Homo sapiens: one gene and its partner. The protein of the gene in region 1 interacts with the protein of each later gene in a biochemical or structural test. Each region holds a gene or a part of one and is shown on either strand. Other genes may lie near its edges. The genes, in order: OPRM1 and DNAJB4.

What was found.
Region 2: the proteins of OPRM1 (region 1) and DNAJB4 form a complex in vitro, tested with the Homo sapiens proteins (one study listed by BioGRID).

Annotation. Positions count from the first base shown.
Region 1 is NC_000006.12:154,129,243-154,133,096, reverse strand, and holds the end of OPRM1 (mu-type opioid receptor), read right to left. Parts: 3' UTR 741-3,854; downstream 1-740. UniProt on the Homo sapiens protein: Receptor for endogenous opioids such as beta-endorphin and endomorphin. Receptor for natural and synthetic opioids including morphine, heroin, DAMGO, fentanyl, etorphine, buprenorphin and methadone.
Region 2 is NC_000001.11:78,003,613-78,007,738, forward strand, and holds the start of DNAJB4 (dnaJ homolog subfamily B member 4), read left to right. Parts: upstream 1-1,326; 5' UTR 1,327-1,498; coding exon 1,499-1,709; intron 1,710-4,126. UniProt on the Homo sapiens protein: Probable chaperone. Stimulates ATP hydrolysis and the folding of unfolded proteins mediated by HSPA1A/B (in vitro).

The DNA of each region.
Region 1 (3,854 bases):
CAGGCTGGAGTGCAGTGGCACAATTTCGGCTCACTGCAAGCTCCGCCTCCCGGGTTCACACCATTCTCCTGCCTCAGCCTCCCGAGTAGCTGGGGCTACAGGTGCCTGCCACCATGCCCGGCTAATTTTTTGAATTTTTAGTAGAGATGGGGTTTCACCGTGTTAGCCAGGATGGTCTCGATCTCCTGACTTCGTGATCCACCCACCTCAGGCTCCCAAAGTGCTGGGATTACAGGCGTGAGCCACCACGCCCAGCCGTTTTTTTCTTACCATAAAGTGTTTTCATGTTGAGACGTTTCCACTTCAAAAAATTGTACCTAACAACCCAGAGCATGCTCTGAATTTCACCTTATCAAACTCTTTGTTTCTTGCAAATAATTTTCCTGCTCAAAACATCAAGAACACATTTTTAAAAAAAGTAGACTATCAGTGGATTTAGCTGCCTATATTTTCAACTATAGACTTTACAGTGGATATTTTTCTTCTCTGTATGGTTTGGTTAGAATTCTAGCTTAGGAAGTTATGGTTGTCAAGGTTTAGAGACATTTTGGTTCTAAAAATAGAAATAATTCATGAAGAGAGAAAGTTCACTTCTTTATTTTGAAGTATTTATTTAGTATCAAAGTTGTCTGTTACTCTAATTCTTAGGCTATTTACCTACGTCGCAACATTTACTTGGGGAATATTCTTTTAAAACAGGTCAGTAATGTCAGAATGAGAAAGACAAGGGAAAATCTAGATTTGTATCAGTTTTAGGTTTTATTTATCACATATAATTACACATTACATATTACATGCAGGAAACTTACAATACAGCCTAATATGTTTATGTATGCTGGTACATCAAGAACAATACAATGCAAAAATTTATATTTTTTATATACAACTATCTGAAACAGTCAAATAGGAGTAATGTAAAAATAATTTAGTGAATTGCTCACTGTTTGATATACTAGTTGACATTTTGATCTGCACATGAGACCATTATGATTTAGCAGGTAGTTCTTTTGAAAGCTGCATCTGATCATCCTGTCCTACCTGGAAATGTGAAATAGTAGCTTTGTCTCTACTTTAAATGAAGATATTTATTTTTCAATAGTAAACAGACATGATGATGGAACTAACACACTAATGAAGAGAAAAAAAAAAAAAAACCAAAAACTTATAGAAAAACTCCCAGACCATCAAAAGGAAAACAATGTTGTGTGTTTTTTTTTAACATTCCTTTTTGTGCATTATCACAACAAACAATATATGTATTTGTCTCTATAGGCGAAATACAGGTTTCCAGGCAAATATTTTTGAAAAGCAGATGTGGGGAAAGAGCTTAAAAACACACACAGAAAGCATGTTGTGCTCACTGTTACAACTGTGGATTTCATACCATGTTTTGAAAGGTGATTGTGTTTTCATTTACTTGGATACAAAATCCGTAAAACAGAAACTATTCTATACTTTTTTATTTTAATATGACCAGTTGACATTTCTATGTCCTGTTTAGGTGTCTGGACTACTGTAAATTAAAATGTCACCCTGGCATACAAACTGAATCTACGTGCAGAGCAGCAGGGGTCTATCTTTTATTTCACCCCCAACACTGTCAAGGAAACGAATTAATTCTGCCCTTCTTTCAGACTCAGGAATATAAGCAGCTAGAAAGAGGACAATGGGTGGAAGGGTTGATTGCTTATGTTAGGTTTGACTTAAAGCTATAGAATAAAGAAGGAACAATTCAGTTGCCATTCTTATTCCTGGAGAGGAAAAATAGTTTGTGGGCAGGAGTCTGTTTAAAATGTCTGAACTTAATCAACCATGAGAGGCTCTCATTTACTCAGATTCTTTACAATATTTTGATTTTTTTCCTACGGAAACATTATATGTATCTTTTAAAACCAAGGGTTATTAGTTACCTGAATTTCAAATGCAATTTAAAACATGGAGGACATCTTTTCTTTTCTAGTGGAAATTATATTTGGATAGCAAAAAATGTGTCATTAATGTTATAAAAAAATGTAATGACAAGTGACAGAGCACCTAATCTTTAGACTTACTTTTTTTTAACTTTCCTATTTGCTATGTTTGACAGAGTAGTTTTTCAATTTTTTAAAATAAATCTGCACTTACAAGGTTTCTTTTTTTCATATAACATAATAAAATGAAAACAACAAGATCACTCATTGTTTTACATTTTCATAACTGGCTATTTAAGTATGTAAAAGTTCAGGAAATGTATTGCCAGGGGAAGGATGACTTAGTGAAAACAGGCATTTTTTCTTTAATTCCCATTAAAATAATGGAAATGTATGTGCCAATATAAATTCCCATTTATATTGGTATATATATATTCCCTTTATATATTCTATTTATATTGGTAGATATATTTTTATGGAATGGCATATATACTTTCATATAATGGTACTAATGCTTTTATATGGATATACAATTAGTATATAAAGGGAATATATATACTAGTATTTCTAACTTAATTCCTATTAAATTGATGGGGATTTATAGGCAAATATTCATATAGCTATGCCTAACACAGAAATTTTTATGGTAGGAGTATTAAATTATAAATGGTAGCATTGAATTTTATGGATTCAAGATTTATGAAATTTTAAACATTTCTGGCCAGGCGCAGTGGCTCACACCTGTAATCCCAACACTTTGGGAGGCCGAGGCAGGCAGATCACGAGGTCAGGAGATCGAAACCATCCTGGCTAACGTGGTGAAACCCCATCTCTACTAAAAATACAAAAAATTAGCCAGGTGTTGTGGCGGGCACCTGTAGTCCCAGCTACTCAGGAGGCTGAAGCAGGAGAATGGTGTGAACCCGGGAGGCAGAGGTTGCAGTGAGCCAAGATTGAGCCACTGCACTCCAGCCTGGGCGACAGAGTGAGACTCCATCAAAAAAAAAAAAAAAAAAGAAAATTTAAACATTTCCATGAAATCGATGGTTTGGGTAGAGACAAAATAATTTAAATTTCAAATTAAGATTTAGATAGAGATAGTATAATTGAAAGCAAATTCTAATTTTCATTTTAAGTTTACTTCCAGAGTACAAATGTAAATAACAAGAGTGCAAGTAAATTATTGATGCTGGAGTTTCAAATAAGGAGGTAAGCCTTTGGTAAATTGTATTTTAGTATTGATTGCATTTTATTTTGATTACAACTATCATATAATTCCCACGGGTCCATTTCACTATGTTGTGTGTGTGTGTGTGTGTGTGTGTGTGTGTGTGCTGGGGGGGGAGGGTGTCGGTGGTAAAGTACGCTTAAAATGCAAAGTGCCTGACTGATAAGAGAAACTTCAACCAAACCAGCCATTTAAAAAAATCACAGGAGTCTTCAAAAGCTTGAGCAGCTGTAGAGCAATCCCCAACAGTCTGGGAGCTCATCAGACCTTGAACTAAAGAAATATGTTTCAAGAATAGATATAGAACTATTTTTCAAATGAATGTAGATGTTCTTATGAGAACTAAAATACACATCTGAAATTATTATTGACATTTTAGTTTTTCCATTATGATTTTCTGTAACAGTGGGCACTAAAACTCAATTATGTGGAAGTCTCCAATCATATATGATGTTGACATTGAGAGGAGAGAAAGACCCTCTCACATTGTTTTATATTGTTTCATATTCAGTAAAAACAACAAGGAAGTAAAACCAAATACAGGCAGCTCAGCGCCAGGCCCGAAACCAGGCCTGGGCCCGCCTGGCCTAAACCCAGTAGTTAAAAATCAACTTATGATTTAGAAGCCGATGTTATTCATAGATTCCTTACATTGTATAGAAGAACATTGTTCTGTTCTCTATTGTATAGAAGAACTCCCTGTCCTGTTCTGTTCC
Region 2 (4,126 bases), on another chromosome or scaffold:
TTGGACTGTGTGCAATTCTTCTGACTTTTCTTATTTATCTCTCTAATAGAAATGGGAACATTTTTGAAAAGATGAGAAAACCATACAGGAGATAAAAGATGAGTTATATACATAGAAAATGTCTCATAAATACCTGAAATATGTTATACTTTCAAAAGCAGGCATCAAAAGGGTATATAAATGCTATGATCTAACTTTGTTAACAAAAAATTATAAAACTACAGCAAATAACCATGAAGATTTATAGAAAACAGAATTAGAAGTAAATACAGTAATATTTAACAGGGATTACCTAAAATGATATTATAGGGAGATTTTTAAAAACTTTTTTCTGCGTTTTCCAAAATCTCCAACAATGAATATATATTTATAATTAGGGAAATGTGTTTTTGAAAGAAAAAATATTTCTCATATTACTGCCCCTTAAGTGGCATATCCAAATTTTACATTGATGCAGTTGCAGTTAAGTCTTGTAAGGAACATGAGTATGTACTGTCTGTAACCTGATACTTTGTTCTAGCTTTCCTGCAGCACCACAGTTCTTTAAATAGGGATCCTGTGGGGCGGCTGCAGGGGACGGGGGTTGAGGGGTGGCAGGGACCTCATTCAGTTTTAGTTTAGTTGAAGTAACTAAGTTCAGATACTAAAATTTCAAAAATAAGTATTTGTTTGCCAGAACTATGAACTCATGTATACTAGAAATAACTAGTTAGCTAAAATCATGTTTAAGTCCTTTACTTATTTTAAAATAACGCATTTGAATTTTATTATAGATACTCCCTTAACAATGTGAAACTAGTACACAAACTTTCTGGCGTTTCTGATTGATAGACCCCAGGAATTTTGAAGACGACATAAATTACTTGGAAATCCTAATTTAAACAACCTGCGTTTTGGTATTATATACTTAACAGACAAATAGCTTAAAATTAAAAAATCCCTAAAGTAGAATTGTCGTTCCTTTTATCTGTATATTAACTTTAACTTCTTTTAACATAGGGTGTTTAATGACTGTGATGATTTTCACCTAGTATGGAGTACATAAATATATAGTTGTGACATTCTGTGTTGAAATATTGGCATGTTAACCCATTTGTCCTGTTTAATTAGGAAATAAAGACGGTAGAGCTAGTCGGAAAATGAATAGTTAATCGTGGAGGAGGAGAAAACATAGCTCAGTACTTTGACTAGAGGCAGCTGGGAAAGTGACGTCCTGTAGCATTTGCTGTTCTAGAAAGTACAGAGACACGTAGTGAAAATGGGAGGATCTAGAAGGAGGCTGTCTCCTGTGTAGTGTATATTTATCTGTAAGTGAGCCGTTGGGGAAGGATTGAATACAGAGACGCTGTCTGCTTGCTGCCTTAAGACAGCTAGCTGAATTGCTGATTAACTTTTAAAATACCCAGCTTGGTTTATTTTTCTTAGAATCTGTTGCTAAGACTGGGGACGCTGTTTTCTTTTACAAAGGGAAATCTAAGTTAATTTCAAGGCATTCGAAATGGGGAAAGACTATTATTGCATTTTGGGAATTGAGAAAGGAGCTTCAGATGAAGATATTAAAAAGGCTTACCGAAAACAAGCCCTCAAATTTCATCCGGACAAGAACAAATCTCCTCAGGCAGAGGAAAAATTTAAAGAGGTCGCAGAAGCTTATGAAGTATTGAGTGATCCTAAAAAGAGAGAAATATATGATCAGTTTGGGGAGGAAGGTAAGTATTCTCTGTATATCTTTCTGTCTCTTCAGCTCTGTCTCTTTTTTTTTTTTCTCTCTCTCTGCCAGCCTTTTTCCCCTCTCTCTCAGCTTGTTAAGGTTATCCTTAAATTGGATTCTCAGTCATATCAAAAGTAGAAGGACAAATGTATAATAACAAGGTTTCATCTCTGATCATATGAATGAGTATTGCAGAGCCATGAATGAAATGTCCTTGTTTGCCTTTTTTATTTTAGCATTTTGTATTATACATATTTTATCATTAGACTTACAATGTTAACAATGTATATTTTAAAATAAACCTTGAATTCCCATACCTATTAGTAAATTGTGTCAAAAGTCTTATGAAACCTGTTTCGTTTTCTAATGAATTTTCTGCCAGAACCAATAAAGAGTCTTTAGTCATTTAAAACCTTAAGATTGGCATTTCAGATTCTGAGTAGTTTATAGCTTATTCACAAAAACAAAAAGTAGTTTTTTGCCTTTCTTATAGCAAGGCTAGTTTAGACTGAACAAGACAGAGTTGTGACTCTCAGAAGCAGAAGGCGCAGGCATTTAGCTTCTAGTTGTTTTTGGCATTCTGCCTGGAGAGGAAAGAATTTTCCTGATGTCATAAAATACCAGAACAAGTTTTTAGCTTAATTGTAAACAATAATTTTGTGCCAAGAAAATGAAATCTCAGAAATACAATTTTTGACCTAAAATGGCCACCTAGTTAGAATAATTACTGATTTACTTTTAGATAACATTATTTATTTAGAAATTTTACTATCTAGGTATAGAGAAAAACATGACAACTTCCCTTTCCTCTCCCTGCCATACTTTTGTTTTTTGCATTGTGAGATCAAAAACTAGTGAGCACAGTAAAGGAGGATAATTTCAGATTATCCTTTTCTCATTCTGCATTTTAAATCAGGTTTGTCCATCACTTCCATATAAACGGGGCTATGAAGTAAGACTATTTTAAATTGCTAATTGATAACACAAAAAACTTTAACTTGTACTGTTTTGGGGATTTTCAACTTTTAACATCAGGACTAAGTTATTTTATTATTAGTTTTTCTCCCAAAATACTGGCTTTCAAATCACTGTAGCTATGAAAACTTGTTATCCCTTTGATTCCTTTATTACATTTAACATCAAATTTTCCTAATTAGAAATATATCCTTAAAATATAGTCAAGCAGTGACTGCTTATTTTGAATGAAACAAATTAAATGTAGACAAGCAGGGTGATTGTATATAGAGGGTTTTTTCCTTTTTGTTTTGTTTAGCTTTTTTGGTCTATGAGTTGCCCAAAATTGAAGTTTATGTTGCAGGTTTTGGTGTGGTGAGGACCTACAGTGTCAGGTTCTTACAAAGTAAATATTGAAAAAGGCAAATACTGGGCAGTTCAATCTTGCATGATACCTATGGCCATATTACCCAAAATATCATGACTTGGTTTATCTCAAAAGCTAAGCAGGATTCTGAGATACTACCAATAATGTACTACTATTTCTAAAGGAGTAATTTTGTAATTTTGTAAAGAAATTCACAAACATGGAATGACACTGTGAATTCCTGTGAAAAAGCAGATATCCACTGCTTTGTATTTAAAATATTTTGCAACAATTCACTGATAGCTCAAGTTTGTGGCTAAGCCATTGGATCCAGGGTTTAGTAAGGATATTTGTCTTCAGAATTTTCAAGTCACCAAATGATACATTTTTCTTGATTTAACATTATCTCTTAATAGTGCTTTTCTAGAGTGATTTTTCTCATTTAATTTTTATTGGTCATTACACAATGAGTGAATTTTTTAAAAACTAAATCACCCTGAATCTGTATACCCTGGGTTTTTTTTTTTAACTTACATAATTGATATAAGTGATAGAAGGAAAGAGTGAGGAGAGAATGCCTTTTTTAAAACATAGAAATATATTATGCAGAAATACCATTCTCTAGTTATAGGTTACTTGAAAATACAATTGAATGGGCCAGGCGCCGTGGCTCATGCCTGTAATTCCAACACTTTGGGAGGCCGAGACAGGCGATCACCTGAGGTCAGGAGTTCGAGACCAGCCTGGCCAACATGGTGAAACCCTGTCTCTACTAAAAATACAAAAATTAGCTAGGTGTGGTGGCAGACACCTCTAATCCCAGCTACTTGGAAGGGTGAGGTAGGAGAATCACTTGAACCCAAGAGGCAGAGGTTGCAGTGAGCCGAGATCGAGCCACTGCACTTCAGCCTGGGCGACAGAGCGAGACCTCATCTCAAAAAAAGAAAAGGAAAAAAAGAAAATACAATTGAATGAAAGTTATTTGAATTATTTTTTAGAATTATTCTTCCTTCACAGGAAAGTATTATATTTGTTTGCCGTTTATTCAGAATATCTCATTTATTCTATTAAAAAATCCCATTTAGATACACTGT